Regions from separate parts of the Homo sapiens genome. Here region 1 is linked to region 2. The links come from fine-mapping of genetic effects on gene expression. A gene starts in region 2. The other region holds a variant in brackets. All regions are shown on one strand. Distances are from middle to middle.

The links. PIP is the estimated chance that this variant, and not a neighbour inherited with it, causes the effect. A credible set is the group of variants that fine-mapping cannot tell apart.
Region 1: its variant is the best candidate, but not a certain one, in a credible set for the expression of TGFBR3 in lymphoblastoid cells (TwinsUK, PIP 0.61).

Annotation. Positions count from the first base shown.
Region 1 is chr1:91,724,768-91,733,528 of GRCh38, reverse strand. TGFBR3 (transforming growth factor beta receptor 3) reads left to right here. Exons shown (of 17, transcript NM_003243.5): 6 at 3,556-3,724; 7 at 5,723-5,870. Among named protein-coding and RNA genes, the nearest start is that of TGFBR3, 160 kb to the left of the region's middle. RefSeq lists an enhancer at 703-997. The variant C/T (reference allele first, on the strand shown) is at 3,485.
Region 2 is chr1:91,881,131-91,889,891 of GRCh38, reverse strand. It overlaps TGFBR3 (transforming growth factor beta receptor 3), which reads left to right and starts at 3,741. Exons shown (of 17, transcript NM_003243.5): 1 at 3,741-4,014. RefSeq lists silencers at 3,475-3,614, 3,965-4,044, 4,055-4,264 and enhancers at 3,407-4,169, 4,170-4,933.

The sequences.
Region 1 (8,761 bases), 160 kb after region 2:
TCTTATTTGGATCTGGGCTGCTTTAAAGTGTGTGAGAGACAGAGGCAGGAAAGGTGGACGTGGACGTCGGAGAGGATGCTACGTGCAGAAGCCATTTCAGGGGCCTTCACGTGCATCCCACTTAACCCCACAGTAACCCCAGGAGGAAGATGTCATTTCCACCGTTTTACAGAGGGCTTAGTGGAGGGCTAAGTGAACCTGCTCACATCCAAGTTACTAACAAGTGACAAAGCCAGAACACAAACCCAGGCTTCCTGACTCTTGAGTTTAACGCTTGTTGCCTGAGCTGTACTTTAAGTCCTAGCCAAATAAGCATAACTCAAAAAGGGAAGTGGTCCACCTGGATGAACATCCTTGTTTAGTTGAGGCAGAGAGAAGGGGACTTAGAGGAGGGCTGGGCTCAAAAAGTCTAAGTTTGTTTCTGTACTCTCATGATAGGTAGCTAATAACAGAGGTCAAATCCCATTGAGACAAAATGAAAAATTTCTTTTAATAAAGACTCTAAGCCCTGGCCAGCGGGCCGCGTTTCTGAAGCAGAATTCTAGTAGCATGAAAGAATGTTGATTACCCCTTGGAATTTGTTAGAATAAGAAAATTTGTTATAATAACATTTAGAATGTTGGACTGTGTTCTCTCGGCAGTGCATGAGCTTCTTTCTAAGCACAGTAGTCACTTACCCTGAGAGCCACGGGTTGTCACTTAACTGGTTCAGCCTGTGCACACTGGGTAGGGGAAGCCAACTTAAAGGACCTTGTGTCTGGTGCAGTAAAAACTGTTAACTCCTTGGTAACACCTTCGGAACCCCTGAAACTTGACTCCAGCCACCAGTTGAGTATGAGTCACCGGGCCATGCCGTGGAGAGAGGAGCAGTAGGGAAAGGAGGTTCCTTGGTGAGGTCAGTGGACCATAAAGTGATATGTTTATCACCACGGCTCAGACTGCACTGAGCAAGCTTCATCCCCCACTTCCCAGAATCCGACCTGGCTCTACCTTTCTTGTACCCAGCGATCGCAGGCCATGAGGCCTGGTTGCTCTAACCCGAGCAGTTCTCAGAGTGTGGTTTTTGCCCCAGCAGCATCCGCATCACTTGGGGACTTGATGGAAATGCCAGTTCTCAGGCCCAACCCAGACCAACTGAATCAGGAACTCTGGGGGTGGGACCCAGCAGTCAGTGTTTCAATCAGCCCTTTAGGAGATCTGATGCTTGCTGACGTTTGGGAACTGCTCTCATCTATATACCCAGAATGAAAGAATTTAAGAGTTTTGCTCTTATCCCAGCTGGTCTTGCTGCGAGGCTTCAAGCAACATTGACTTACCACCAGAGCCTCAGTTTCCACAGCAGGAAAATGAGGTGTTTGCATTACCCCCCAGGTTCATTCCTGCTCTCAGAGTATATCCTTCTGTGTCTCAAAGTCATTTGTCAATCTTTCCCTAAAATACAAATAAGCATGTGACTCCCCCTGCCCCCAAACTTGCCAGGTTTCTACCCGGGAATTCCCCTTTGTGGTTTCCTTTCTACTTGGCACTCGGTATAAGTTTTGATGCCAGGCATTCGGAAAGTCATTGGGGAGCGGGGGAGAAACCACACACAACAAAAGTGGTCAGCTTATTCAACTTAGTGACAATGGCTTCTGGGACTAGAGCCCTTAATAACATCAACTTTTGAACAATTAGACCTTTCCTAGTGGCTTCACATGAGTGAATATTTTGTTATTTGTCTCAAATCTCACATCATTGTTTGTTAATTCAGGAAACCTATACCATATGCCCACTATGTGCCAGATACAAGCCAGGCACACCTATGAACTGGATATGCCGGCCACAATCCCAGGAGGGCCCTAGTCTCTTGAGTTCCAGACTGTCCTGTCCCTGGCCCATAGACGCTCTTTCTTAATTAAATTTCAACCTTGCCGTTCCAATATCATTTTCCATCCTGTGATGTGGGGGAGGCATCCGCAGGGCTGCAGCTGCACGGTGTGCATACCTCATTTGCTCATCTGGCAAAACCCTCAGCAGATGTGGAGGGAGGCTGCTCTAGCAGCCTGAGTCAGTGGAGCCTTGAGCTTTTCTCTCTGAGGGGGAGGGGAATTAGAGGAGACTGCAGAGTGCAAACCCAATGCTCTCTCGCAACGAGCCGACAAACAGAGGCTTTGGTCCCCTTTGTTCTGGGGTGGTGCTGGGGGTGCTGTGGTGGCCAGAGCCATGATGCCCCAGTGTGTGCTGCGGACCTCAGCACAAGGGAGGTTGCACAAGTGGGGAGGGGGAGGGACAGTATCAACCCAGTCTTGGGACCCCCTGGTTGGATTCCTTACTCCAAAGTGAGACTTCCATGTGGACTTGAACCCTGGCATCCTGTCCTCAAAATGGAAAAGGCAGAAGTCTGTTTTATAGTAGTGCCAGGCCTCTGATTAATTATCCCTTCTGAAAAAAGCATGCTACACCTAGAACTTCCTTGACACTGGTCCCAGCTGTCACACTGCCAGCAGTTTCTTTCAAGTTCTGTTGAAATATTTAAGCCCGTGGATGGAAATCCCATCAGCCGCCGTGCTGTGTAAATGGCATGTGCCGTTGTGGGAGTGTCTTCAGATTCTGGTACTTGCATCACTTTCCCGGGTGGAGGTGGTGAGCAACTCTCAGCACAGTGAGATAATGTTTGCGAAAGCACTTTGTAAACTGTAAAGTGCCATATAAACTTGAGTTGTCTGTGTTCAGATTGTGAGAAAGAGTGAAAGTCTGCCTTCTTTATTTCCCCCAAATTCCTACCTTTCATCTTCAGAGTATAAAGTGCTGTGAGGAATACATATGAGGGAAAGATTAATTCTACATGGGGTGTCGGAGGATTAATTAGGTGGTTGCTTCTCCTGATAGTTGAAATAACAAATATCCAAGGAGGAGTGCATTTGGGGATAGAATGGATTGAATGTTAAATACGCTGACCATGAAATACATAAGTATTGGATTTTTAGATAGGAGATGCTTGGTAGACAGATGACAGTATAAGTCAACTGCTCAGAAAAGGAGTCATGATCTAGGTACAGGTTGAAACCATGGGAGTGATTGAGATCACCTAGAAAAAGAATGAGATAGAAAGGGGATTGAGGAAGGAGCTGAGAAGTTCTTAGCCTTGGTTTATATTGGAATCTACTACGAGCTTTTCAAAAAAGAAAGCTCCCTAGGCCCCGCCTGGGTGTTCTGAATCAGATTCTCTGGGTTGGGGTCTATACAGATTCTGAGCAGAGGAGGAACCAGTGGAAGAGATGTGAAAGATAGGTCAGAGGAAACAGACGAGGACAGGAAGTATCACAGAGAACATGCAAGGAGAAGATTTAGCCAAAAGAGGCCCCTAGTTGGGGGCTAGTCAATAGGCGGTCACTGGTGACCATAACAGGATGCATTTCAGGGCAGTGGTTGCGGACTTCACAGACGAAGAACCATCCTTTGAGCTCGTGGTTCCCTGTGTCTGCCATTTGCTCAGTTTCACTGT[C/T]ACCCTCCTTCCTTTGAATCTGGTTACCGAGTACCTCAGTGGTTTGACAGATTGTCCTGTGCCTCTTTCAGATCAAGTGTTCCCTCCAAAGTGCAACATAGGGAAGAATTTTCTCTCACTCAATTACCTTGCTGAGTACCTTCAACCCAAAGCAGCAGAAGGGTGTGTGATGTCCAGCCAGCCCCAGAATGAGGAAGTACACATCATCGAGCTAATCACCCCCAACTCTAACCCCTACAGGTAAGTGAGTCTAAGTGTGTGAGTGTGACAAGAGATGAAAGTAAAGATCTTCCTTGACTTGAGGCAGGGAGAGGTGTAGCCCGTCCTACACCCTCCCCTACGCAGGAGGGAAGGGAGCCATTGATGCTTCACGCAGGAGGGAAGGTAGCCATTGATGCTTCAGGTGTGCTTCATCAGATGTGTTTCACAGAAGCTTTGAAGAACAGAGTAAAGGCACCAGTGGTATATTTTATATTCTGCATCTGTCCCTAGATCCCAGATATTTCAGATGAATTCCTGAAGCCTGTTCCAAACTTCTGGGTGTTAATTACAGGACACAGTCACTCTTCCTTCATCTTTATCACCTCTGACTAAGGTTATCCCTGATAGGAAAATTACAAAATATGCCCTATTAATATAATTATCATCTTAGTAACCTTCTGTTTTTAATAAAGCTCTGTTTGTGGTGTCCTTAGAGCGCTTAGGCACTCAGAGCTGTTTGCGTTAAATCTGTGTGTGTGTGTGTGTGTGTGTGTGTGTATGCGCATGCACGTGTGTGGTGGAGTGGCTCTTCATGGTGCCATACCAAAGAGCCATTCGATAGAACTTGCCTCTCCCTTGTGTGCTTGGTGTGTGTGTGTGTGTGTGTGTGTGTGTGTGTGTGTGTGTGTGTGTATGCTGGAGTGGCCCTCCATGGTGACATACGAAAGAGCCATTCGATAGCGCTTGCCTCTCCCTTGTGTGCTTGGTGTGTGTGTGTGTGTGTGTGTGTGTGTGTGTGTGTGTGTGTGTATGCTGGAGTGGCCCTTCATGGTGACATACCAAAAAGCCATTCGATAGAACTTGCCTCTCCCTTGTGCGCTTGTTCTCCCTCTCAGCTTCCTACCCCTGGATTGGAAATTCGACCCTCCCTATCAAGAATAATTAGGGAATTAAAGAAAAAGGAGAAAAAGTAGGTTCTTTTCCCACATGAGCCTGCATTTCACCCTCCTTCCTTTGCATCTGGACTAGTGACTTGAAAATTTAAATGTATATTGTAGAGGGATTTCGAGGTGAAAATGCTAATCGGGGTTTGACTTTCAAAGCGTGTAAGCTACAGATCGTTTTGATAAGATTCCACTCTGGCCACTTGAAGAATTTTGTAGAAAGTGAAAAGGGAATGGGAATAGGAGCAGTCTGGTGAATGTGCTTCGACGTCAGGCCTGAGGCTTCATTGGAGTATACCATGCATTTTATGCTTTACAAGTGTGTAAAGCTGAGATGGAAAGAAAGACTGTTCCCTTAAATTCAGAATGACAGGGATGTTATTGTTTAGTAAAAAATTCTCTTTTTTACGAATTCTTAGAAGTTTGGGTTGTGTTCATCAATTTTCCAGTAATCACTTGGTTGACCATCTGTTTTCTTTATTTTAATAACCTTATATCCAGAAGTTTGGGAAAGTAAATGCAGATACGATTCTGTAGCAATTGTTAATGACTTAAGCAAACCTTATATAAATCAAGAAATTCTTTAGCCTTTTGTCTCTTATTTTACTCTGAAGTTTCCTAATTTTTTTTTTTACCACCATGCTTCCCTTATCCCAACACCCCGCCCCCAACTCACCAAACTGCCACCTACTTCAGTTTTGAAGGAATTTGAGCATATTAGCCAAATGGGAATCCTGTACATCGAAGGTGTTGAAGGTTGAAAAAGCAACAATACTGCTTCAAAAGTAAACTCTTCTGGTTCGTTCAAGTCCACTTCAAACAGTGGCTGCATTAAGTAACCACCTCTTTTCCATCAAAGAAGAGAAAAACTTTAGTGACTAATTATCAGCAAGCATATGTTTCTATTGTTATGTAAAACAATTTTGTTATGTGTGCAGTAACAATCTGTTTTGCACATGTCATTGGCCTGGGATCAACTCCAGCTTTTTAATCAACTGGCCAGACACTAGAAACATGAAGACTTGGAAGAGGGGAGATAGTTGCAACTTTCTGGCATGTAGGTCTTAACTTTGCCTTTGTCTTCCATTCACAGTGCTTTCCAGGTGGATATAACAATTGATATAAGACCTTCTCAAGAGGATCTTGAAGTGGTCAAAAATCTCATCCTGATCTTGAAGTGCAAAAAGTCTGTCAACTGGGTGATCAAATCTTTTGATGTTAAGGGAAGCCTGAAAATTATTGTAAGTTGGTGGAGCATGTCTTTTGTTTTGTTTAGATAAATGACAACAATTTAAGCTGTACTTTATAAGTGTTATTTTTAAAGTTCCTGCCTCTTTGGACTCTCTAAGCTCTGTCAATTATTTTTCACTTTGCAAAATAGCATGCTCCTATAAAATAGGTGCGGTTGTTCAAACATGGCCTTGGATTAAGACGGACCCAGGTCTGAGTCCAGGTAATCCCACTGTGACCTTTGGCAAGTCCCCTAACCTCTCTGAACCCCAGCTCCCTCATTTGTGAAATTCCTGAAATACATTAGTATGCTTTCCACTAATAGTAAGTGTAAAGTAATGAACACAATTAAGCCTTCATATTGAGCATCCCACAAGGACCTCAGTGTCATAGTACCGAATATCAGCTTTTATTTTGGAGTTAGGTACTTAGAGAAAGTATGGACTATTAGGCTGACCCCAGCTCACATCATTGACTTTTCTTTTTGAGTTAAATACGAAATATTGGCATGTCTTTTTGCTTGCTTCCAACTCCTAAGTGTGAAACACTGATAGAAGAATCACAGTAAGTGCGAAGTCAGTGAAATGATGCTGGACAAGTCTACTCCAGCTTGTTCCCAAGGCCCTCTATTTAATAGAGATGTACGCACAAGGCTTAGCCCATTGGCATGATGGGCAAACAGCAGCTGGTTTCCTCAAAAGTTGAATGTTGAAACTTGGTAAAGTAAATCTTATCTCAAATATGCTTAGGCAATAACTATTTGACTGAATTATATTGAAAGTTAAAGAAAAATCCTCCTCCCTATTTTTTAAGAAGATAATTATCTCTTTAGTATCTCTTCTATGGGCTCAAATTTTTTTTTTTTTTTTTTTTTTTTTTGGCCAATCTCTCTTTTAGTTCCTGCACTGAGTAAGCTGAAGTGGGTTTTATGTTTTCAGTATTTTGGGAGAGGGATGCCCTTGGTTTTGGTATTATTCATTCATTCATGGCACCTTCCATGTGATACCACAGTGAGCAAAGCCAACAGTTCCCTTGGCAACGTCATGTAAAAGCACTCACCAGAGGCAGCAGGCAAAACCACTAGCACACATATTTTAATTTTAAAGTAATCGTTTCTGGTTCCCGTGGGTTTTTTTTTTTTTTATAACTTTGCTAGGATCCCAGTGAGCCATCATATGTAATGGTGATACATTAATTTGTTGTCAAGCCCAAAGCCTAGCCATGATCTGAAGTCAGAGATGTTTTGATTGCCTTCTCTGGCATGGCATGAGGGGTGTTGGTGACCTAGGCTGTCTGCTGCTTTTGCTGCCTGGCACACCGGCCAAATGTTTTTAATTTCAGAATAACAAAAACAGGAAAGGGAATCATGCTTTGAAAGGCAAAAACATACGGTACATTTTAATTCCCTGCTGGAGTTCTTGTGTAAATATTCTTTCAGCCTTGACCCTTCGATGGCTCTTTCCCTGAGTATGTGTGCCTGGTCCATGGCAGTCCTGGAGTTCACTTTGAATGTCCCCATCTCTCATATGAATCAGAAAGGCTAGAAATGAGATTGCTCATCCCAGTGCAAGATCTGTTTATGTTCCTCTCCTTGGCTGTACGCTTGTTCCAGGCCAATTTTGGACAATGCATGACAACATTACTAAACAATTAGGTAATGTTTCATGATGTTCTTTTTTATTCTCCCAACCAGTTTATGCTTTGTGATTTTCTAATTCCCTGTTTCAGATGTGAATTCTGACTGTGCTGTGAGGGAAAGGTACCTGCTCCCACAAAAGTTTAAATTACTATTTAGAAAGGGGGCAATGGTTTATAGAAACCTTGTTTCTAGTATTTCCTTTAGAGACAGCATAGTGAAATTGAAAGAATCTTGACTTTGTGCCAGACAGGGCTAGATTTAAATCCCATTTCCAATTACTACTCCTAGTAGATGTTGTGCAGTCTGACTGATGAACACGGAGTCTGTTTGGTCACCTGTGAAATGGGTATGATGATAGTACTCACCTTGAGTTTGTGGTTCATTAGCTGAGTTCATTTGTTTGTTCATTTATTTGCCAAATACTTGTTAAGGGCCTATAGGATATTTCACCTAAAGCACTGGACACAGGGCCTGCGCATGTAAGTTCTCAGCTACATGTGTTGCTTCTGTGAGTCTTAGGTTCTCCTTCTCTAACAGGAATGGTAATGCCTATCTCCTTATATTTTGGAAGAGAAATAAGATAATATATGCCTAGCAGAGTGCCTGCCATAAAAAGGGGGTTCATCTTCCTTCCATAAATAACTCTTTCAGAGTGTCTATAGGAACAATTAGGGCACTTCTCTATACAAGGTGAAAAGAAAGAAAGATGTCTACTAAGGGAATTGTAAGGAGTCTGATGGAGTAATTTAAAGAAGAGCACCATTAAATATGGATGTCTTATGCATGTGTGTGTCGGGGGTGGGGCATGGGCAGAATGTGTCCTCCAGATGGCAAAATGGTCAAAAGAGGTGCAAAGAGCCAGGCAGTGGGCAAGAATGGGAACATTGGAGGTGTCTACATTGCCTTGTCCAGCTCTGGCTCTTTTCTCAGGTCCTGTGTGGACCATGCATAATCACTTTTATGGTAGGAAGAACCTCTAAAACATAAAAAAATAGATGGAGGAAACCTGTTAGAGGTTTCCTCTTATATTATTTCATGTGGCCTCAGGACTTCAGGGTTGATGATGGGCAGCTTGTTCTTAGAGAATACATTTTTAAAAATCTCAGTGGGCATATGCACTACGCTCTCTGGCCATTCCCTTCCTTAGTCCTCCCTCCCCTATACCATCAGTCCAGATGTAAATATGGGGGAGTGTGGAGGCACTTAGACTTAACTCCTTATCTTTCATGAAGATATGGCTGGGAAAGATGGTGGTGGTTTTTG
Region 2 (8,761 bases):
TCAGGAGTTATGGCAAAACCCTGTCTCTACTGAAAATACAAATATCAACCAGGCATGGTGGTGGGTGCTGGTAATCCCAGCTACTTGAGAGGCTGAGGCATGAGAATCACTTGAACCTGGGAGGTGGGGGTGGGGGTTGCAGTGAGCTGAGATCGCGCTGCTGCACTCTAGTCTGGGCAACAAGAGGGAAACTCCGTCTCAAAAAAGAAAGAAAGAAAGAAAAGAGGTAGGGGAACCCTTTTTTATAGAGCTTTGCTCAGGAACCAAAAATTCAAGTTTATTTTAAACCTTTCGTCTATGCTTGAGGTATCTGGATTTCTGCTTTTAATATCATATTGTAAAGATTTAAAGAGAAAACATCTCTGTAGACATTGTTAATTTTGTAAATACTGATGTAATTTCTTGTGTTTTTCCATATCATCTACTGAAACTAAATAGCTCAGAATTAAAAAAAAGAGCCCTTTTATTTTGCCAGTCTATAAAGCTTCTGATGACAGGTAGAAGAACCTGGTGGTTAAGGACTTAGGTTTTGAGGTCGGTGGATGTGAGATTGAATCGTGGACAGGTTTTGAGGTCGGTGGATGTGAGATTGAATCGTGGACAAGATCTCAGTTTGTATAAAGGCATGTATATCGGCCTCATTTATACATATTCTTAGAGGGCTGTGAGAAGTAAATGTGTTTATATGTATAGAATTTAGTACCCATGGCCAGGCGCAGTGGCTCATGCCTGTAATCTCAGCAGTTTGGGAGGCCAAGGCGGGTGGATCACTTGAGGTCAGGAGTTCGAGAGCAGCCTGGCCAACATGGTATGAAACCCCGTCTCTACTAAAAATACAAAAATTAGCCAGGCATGGTGGTGCGTGCTTGTCAATCCCAGCTACTCAGGAGGCTGAGGCAGGAGAATTGCTTGAGCCCAGGAGGCAGAGGTTGCAGTGAGCTGAGATTGCGCCACTGCACTCCAGCCTCGGCAGCAGAGCGAGACTCTGTCTCAAAACAAAAACAAACAAACAAAAAAGAATTCAGTACCCACGCTGGCTCAGATGTTGATGGTTACTGTTGTGAATCTGGCTCTACGGGGACCAGTCACTTCATCACTCTTTAAAGACAAGACACTCCTAAATTATCTACCAGGCCATTTTATTTAGAAGGCCTTAACATGATTGATACATTTAATTTAATTTTATTTTTTTGAGACAGAGTGTTGCTCTTGTCCAGGCTAGAGTGCAATGGCACCATCTCAGCTCACTGCAACCTCTGCCTCCTGGGTTCAAACGATTCTCTTGCCTCAGCCTCCCAAGTAGCTGGGATTACAGGTGCCCGCCACCATGCCTGGCTAATTTTTGTATTTTAGTTGAGATGGGGTTTCACCATGTTGGTCAGGCTGGTCTAGAACTCCTGACCTCAAGTGATCCACCCACCTCGGCTTCCCAAATTGCTGAGATTATAGGCATGAGCCACCTCACCTGGCCGATGCATTTAAATGTGGGATTAAATATTCACACCTAGTTCAAGTGTTCACATCTGTACTTGAAACTAAAACTTGTTAACAAGGCATAAATACTGTATTAGTCTGTTTTCATGCTGCTGATAAAGACATACCCGAGACTGGGCAATTTACAAAGGAAAGGTTTATTGGACTTACAGTTCCACATGGCTGGGGAGACCTCACAATCATGGCAGAAGGTAAGGAGGAGCAAGTCACATATCACGTGGATGGCAGCAGGCAGAGAGAGCTGGTACACGGAGACTCCTGTTTTTAAAGCCATCAGATCTCGTGAGACTTATTCACTATCATGAGAACAGCACAGGAAAAACTCATCCCCAAGATTCAATTACCTCCCATTGGGTTCCTCCTAGGACACATGGGGATTGTGGGACTTACAATTCGAGATGAGATTTGGGTGGGGACACAGCCAAACCATATCAAATACTGTTTAATTTGAGTCTAGGAGAAATCTTAAGGCCTTAAACTTAGACTTTATAAAAGCAGAGGCTAGCTCCATCTGGACTGTTTATTCCTTCAGAATATTATGCCTACTTGTATTCCCAATGCCTGACTCAGGGCTCTCCCATAGTCAGTGCTCAATGAATATTGGTAAGGAAAAAAATGGTTCAGTGAGGAGATTTTTGCAGTAATTCAGGTGACTGATGACATTTGACCTTTGTGAATGAATCTCCAATTCTGCAATTGGGTGGATTCTCTGCCTATAGGTACAAGAGGAAGAGGACGAGAAATATTTCCTGTTCTCTCAATAACTTTCCAAATAACATGTCATAAGAAGCCTCCTCATTCTACTCTCCAACATATTAAAAGCCTAGGATTGAGCCAGGTGCAGCGGCTAACGCCTCTAATCCCAGCACTTTGGGAGGCCAAGGCAGGCGAATCTCTTGAGCTCAGGAGTTTGAGACCAGCCTGGGCAACTAAGTGAGACCCCCGCCCTGCCAACCCCCTCTACAAAAAATACAAAAAGTTAGCTGGGCGTGGTGGCATTTGTCAGTAATCCCAGCTACTCAGGAGGCTGAGGTGGGAGAATCGCTTGAGCCTGAGAAGCGGAGGTTGTAGCGAGCTGAGATTGAGATTGTGCCACTGCACTCCAGCCTGGGCGACAGGGCGAGACTCCATCTCAAAAAAAAAAAAAAAAAAAAAAAAAAAGGCATAGGTCCATAGCCCTTTAGAACTGGAAGAAGCCTTCTAGGCCAAGCCCTTCATTTGAACTGAGCCTTGACGGGTATTAGCCGTTAGCCATTTGTGGAAGGTCGCACAGTAGTCAGGACTGGAAGTCTGGTCTTTGAAACCTGTCAGTCCACGGTCATTTCACCTGCCTGTTTGTAAAACAATGTCCTGTTACTTAAGTATACTTTTTAATAAGAAAAACTGGGTGTAAGCAAGAGTATCAGAGTGGTGTTCTGGTGCCAGCAGTTCAACTTCTGCAGCGTGTACTTCACAGGCACAGGTACTTAGGACGTCGCACAGGCACAGGTACTTAGGACGTTGCCCCGCCGAGACTGTCGTTCATATCGCGCCCACCTCCGGGTAACGCCGGTAATGCTGACCTAGCTCCATTATTTGTATTAATTTATTTAGCTAGCAGGGGGAACGGCTGGGTAATGCAGTCTCAGCTGCTGGAGGGGAAGAGGCAAGACTCCGCCGGCGCCCACCATCAGAGCGTGACAACAAGCGGGACCGGAGGTTGGGAAAAAGCACAGGGACAGAATGAATGTGTGCATGGGGGAGCTCTGCTGGGGAGAGGGCAAGAGGCTGTGATCAGATTATCTGAGGTTTCAGAACTTTTATATAAAGACCAAGGAACCAAATGAAAATCCAACTCTTCCAGGGAGCCCTGGAAAGTTCAAAGGACCTCGTTTGAGGGAGCGAGTCCCCGCAGCTCGTGCCCACGTCTCCCTCGCGCTTCCCCCAGGACAGGGGCCGCCCCAACCCGGGCACGCTGAGCCCGGCCGCGCCCCTAGCCCCTTCTCTCTCGGCCTCCTCGTCCCGAAGGGAAGCACAGGCTCGAGCAGCATTCGGGGCTCATCCATCAGCCGCGGAGGCAAAGGGGGAGGAGAGAGGAGGCGGGAGGCGGGAGGCGGGAGGAGGAGTTTCTGGGCGGCCGAGAGCCCCCGGTGGGGCCGGCGGAGGAGCGCCCTTCCCCCCGCGCGCTGATTGCTGTGGCGTCCTGCCCGTCCCCGCCCGCGTGTGTGCGAGGGAGGGCGAGTGCGCCGGGTCGGCCTGATGGGGGTAATCGAGGGTTTCGGGGACGCCGAGCGGCACTTTCCTCTTCCCAGCGAGTGAAGGAGGGCAGTCGGCGGCTCTCGCGCCCCGGCCACTTTCCCTGCGCGATTCCCGGAGCTCCCTGCAGGAGGTGAGAGTCCCCAGCGGGTCCGGATGGCGTAGTTTTGCCGCGGCGCAGCAGCTGCCGGAGCTCGCCGCCGCCGAGCGCTGGGCGGGGAAACTTGCCGCCGCTTTCCTCCAACTTGCTGCGGGTGGATCTCCGCTGGACACACCGCCTCCGAGGTACGTGCCGGCCCAGCCCCGCGGCGCTGCAGCCCGCCCGGGCTGTGGGCTCTGCAGGCTGCGCGGGTGCCCGTCGGCGCGGCGCGGGCTGCCAGTGCCTACTTACCGGCCAGGGTCGCTCCAGCCGCCAGGACCTCCGGCCTTGGGAGGGAGGCGCTGGTGGGGCGGTGTTTACCCTCCGGGGAGCAGGCACCGGTGGCCAGCGGTGCGTGGGCAGCGGCCGCACGGGGCAGGCAGTGCCCCCGGCGATGCGCAGTGCTGGGGAGGAATTCTCCACGCCCGCCCTCACTCTTCCTCTCCGCGGGTCCTTCTGACCCCTGCGGGGCGCGGCGGCCACTTCCCTCCGGGCGCGTGACAGCTTCGGTGGGAATGGTTTGTTGTGGGTTCGCAGTCAATTGCCGTGGCCCAGGCTGTGGCTCCCGGACTCGTGCACGGACGCGGTTTGCGTTCCCCGCTGGCCGCGCCCTCAGGGTGCCTTGCGGGCTGAGCCGCAAGCTGCAGCTCGGCCCCCCCCCGCCCCGGTTTATTTTGAAGGCTCTCTTCTTGTATTCATTTGGTTAGGACAAACTTGGAAATCTTGGACTGTCGCTAGAAGAATCTGCTTGCAGACTTGATCTTATTAGGGCATTTGCCCCGCTTTGCAGAATCGCATAGTGTCAGGAGCCGACGTGTCAAGCATGAATTACCTTGGCAAAGTAGAACTTAGTGGATTTGGTGTCCTCACGAAAAGCTGGAAGAAGAAAACCGTTCCATTTCCCTAGCTGTGAAGTGAGGATAGTAGTACTTGCCCCGTAAAGTTGCTGTGAGCATCTAATGATTTAATGTGTGTGAGGTGCTACAACAGTGCTTGGCACCGAGTAAGCACCGCACGGAGGTTAGCGCTGCTTGCCGCTAGCCCTGCGGTGGCAGGATAGGAGCGGCGAGGGCAGAGGATAGTAGGAGTGACAGGCTGTGCTGGGGAACCAGGCGTATTCTGAGTTTTATGTCCTTCCGAAGAAGTGAGCGGTTTGGGAGAAGTCTCCACAGGTAGTAAAAACACACGTCAAGACCGTTTCTTCTTCCTGAATGCAGAGTGCAAACAGTTACTTCAGTGTGAACTCAGTTGTTTCTTTTGGATAATAATAACAGCTAACGTTTTCTAAGCCCATACTGTGTGCACTTAATCCTCACAGCATCTCTATGGGAAAAGCACTATTAATAACCCTATTTTACAGATAAGACACTAGAGGTTAAGTTACTTGTCCAAGATCATACATAACTTTCTGTTAGTTCTGACTCCAAAGCTACCTTCCTTCCTCAGCGGAGAGCGGCAAGTGCAGGCCGATTTGTGTGTACATAGATTTGTGTGCATAGTCCATGCATCTTCTCCCATCTTTCAGCTTTCTATTTGAGCTGAACGCATATCTCTTGAAACACACATAAGGTATCTGTGATGAATTTAGGCGATTTTACATACTTATGAGGGTGCCCAATTAAAGTTCCTCTGAAACTGGCCCCAAATAATTATAAATAGAACTCTGACTTGTATTAATTAACATGGAAATTTTTTTTTTTTTTTGGTGACAGAGTCTCGCTCTGTCCCCAGGCTGCAGTGCAGTGGTGCGATCTCGGCTCACTGCAACCTCCACCTCCCGGGTTCAAGAGTTTCTCCTGACTCAGCCTCCAGAGTAGCTGGGACTACAGGCGCGCGCTACCACGCCCAGCTAACTTTTGTATTTTTAGTAGAGACGGCGTTTCACCATGTTGGCCAGGATGGTCTCGATTTCTTGACCTCGTGATCCACCTGCCTCGGCCTCCCAAAGTGCTGGGATTACAGGTGTGAGCCACCACGCCTGGCCAACATGGATCTTTATTCTTAATTTCTTTTATTAATTCTCCAGACATTGTTGATCACCATTACTTGGCTTCCTTAGGAAACAGCTTGGGGTTGGCACAGGAGGCAGGGAAATAATTCTTACCCCCTTAAGGGCTATTAACATGAAATTGATTTCATGCCATTGTGTCAGTTAAAGGATGTTGCTCTATTTCTTGCTGTTCTTTGCTTTTGGCTTTATTTCTGCATTGTTTAGTGTTTCAAGGCTTGAGCGTTTTTTTTTTTTGGCCCTTCAGTTTGACATTTGTCAACTTTAATTTTTCCTGTTTTGATGGAATCTGACCGTTACACGGCAGCTTTGCCTAACAACTGTTGATTCAGCTCATGTTTTTAAATATAAAAATCACCAACATAGTTTTGAATCCCAGCACTTCAAAGGCAACCCGTGGGGAGTTCATTGTTATTTTGAATATTAGTCAATAGGGGGAGCATAACACACTGTTGATATCTATAAGGCGCATAAACCCGTTTTTAGAGTATTAAACATATAGTTTGAAAGGGGAGGGCAAAATATCTAGCAAAATAACTAAGTTGCTTTTGGAGTTTATAATGGAGGACTAGATTTAATTTGAACTGATTAAGAATGACCTTGAGGACAGGGCCTGTATGTTGAATATATGTCAAGAACTCCATGGTGGCTGGACAGATAGATAAACACACATATAGTTTTTTTTCAATTTGTTTCCTTAAGTGGTGTGTAGGCCAGGCACAGTGGCTCACACCTGTAATTCCAACACTTTGGGAGGCTGAGGTAGGAGGATCACTTGGCCAAGGAGTTCGAGACCAGCCTGGGTAACATAGTGAGACCCCCATCTCTTTAAAAAGTGAAGTTTGTATGTAAACTAATTTTGTGTGGTTTGAATAATATTTCAACTTACCTGGGAGAAATGGAAATCCAGAGGAATTTGTTGTGAATCCTTTTGTAATGATCCTCATTTGTGTTTTGTAGAAAACTGAATATAATGAATTTGTTCTCAGGGAGGTTGGTGTGTTCACAATCCTGTCATCATCTTTCATTAACATCTTCTAAGTGCAAGACAATAGGGGATCAGTAATCCTAAATAACAGCAGTTCTATTACTGTGAATTCCTCAGAGGCTTACGTTAATATTCAAGTATAGTAGTAGTTCAGATGTATCATATTTGATACTAGTATAAGTGTGATGTGTCTATGAATACTCATACTTGTAAACATAAACAATAAGAATATGCTTGAAAAAATCACACTTGACATTTATCTATTTATTTATTTATTTTTTGAGATGGAGTCTCTCGCTCTGTCGCCCGGGCGGGAGTGCAGTGGTGCAATCTCAGCTCACTGCAAGCTCCACCTCCCAGGTTCACGCCATTCTCCTGCCTCAGCCTCCCCAGCAGCTGTAACTACAGGCACTCGCCACCATGCCCGGCTAATTTTTTTGTATTTTTAGTAGAGACGGGGTTTCACCGTGTTAGCCAGGAAGGTCTCGATCTCCTGACCTTGTGATCCGCCTACCTCAGCCTCCCAAAGTGCTGGGATTACAGGCGTGAGCCACGGTGCCTGGCCAAACTTGACTTTTAAAAAAAGTTTTTGGCTGGGTGTGGTGGCTCACGCCTGTAATCCCAGCATGTTGGGAGGCCGAGGCAGGTGGATCACTTGAGGTCAGGAGTTCGAGACCAGCCTGGCCAACATGGCGAAACCTGATCTCTACAGAAAATACAACAATTTGCTGAGCGTGGTGGTGCACACCTGTAATCACAGCTACTCCAGAGGCTGAGGTGGGAGGATCCCTTGAGCCCAGGAGGTGGAGGTTTCAGTGAGCTGAGATCGTGCCACTGCACGCCAGCCTGGCAGACAGCGAGGTTCTGTCTCAAAAAAAAAAAAAAAAAAGGTTTTCAATTTTTGTCTGTAGTTTTGTAGGCCAGTTTCCTTTCTTGTTTCTTGCGTATTATGTAGTATTTTTTTATTATTTATTTATTTATTTATTTTTGAGACAAAGTTTCGCTCTGTCGTCCAGGCTGGAGTGCAGTGGAGTGATCTTGGCTCACTGCAACCTCCGCCTCCCAGGTTCAAGAGATTCTCCTGCCTCAGCCTCCCGAGTAGCGGGGACCACAGGTGCATGCCACCACGCCCGACTAATTTTTTATATTTTTCGTAGAGACGGGGCTTCACTGTGTTAGCCCCGATGGTCTTGATCTCCTGACCTCATGATCCACCCGCCTCGGCCTCCCAAAGTGCTGGGATTATAGGCGTGAGCGACTGTGCCCGGCCCCATATTATGTAGTATTGATTTACCTTTATTTCATTTACTACGTTAGGGTCCCATGGATCCTATTTTAAAATAACTTTCAAAATTAGTTGAGTCCCTTCTTTTTAAATCTTAGCATTGCGCTTATACTACAGAGTGGCATTTATTTAGGATCTCATTTAGTCTTCTATGCTTTGCTCTAGTTTACTCGAGTAATTCAACAAACACTTATAACCTCCTACTCCCTACTAGGCTATGGTTTCTGGTCTTGGAGCTTGGCAAATTAATTGTCCTTATTCAGTGCTCTGATGACTGGGGGCCAAAATGCCTTCAGGTTGCTTAGGGCTTTCTTACAGAAAGCCTTTCGTTGGCTTGAAGGAAAGTGTTGTTCCATTGTTTTTAAGACTCAAAAGAATTAATTTTTCTCTCTTGCATGCAAACTTGGTTGTGACTTGTAAAAGTCAGGTGAGTGCTTGTTTTTCTGAGGGCAGAATCTGAGCCTAAGAGCCCAGGGAACTCAACTGTCCTTTGAGTTTTAAGAAGGTGATCACTGCTGACTTCTTTAGTATATAAGTGAAGACCAATTTCCTGGCTTCAAAAATCTGTGAAAGGTCCTGACTTTACATTTTAAGCTTAACAGACAGAACAGT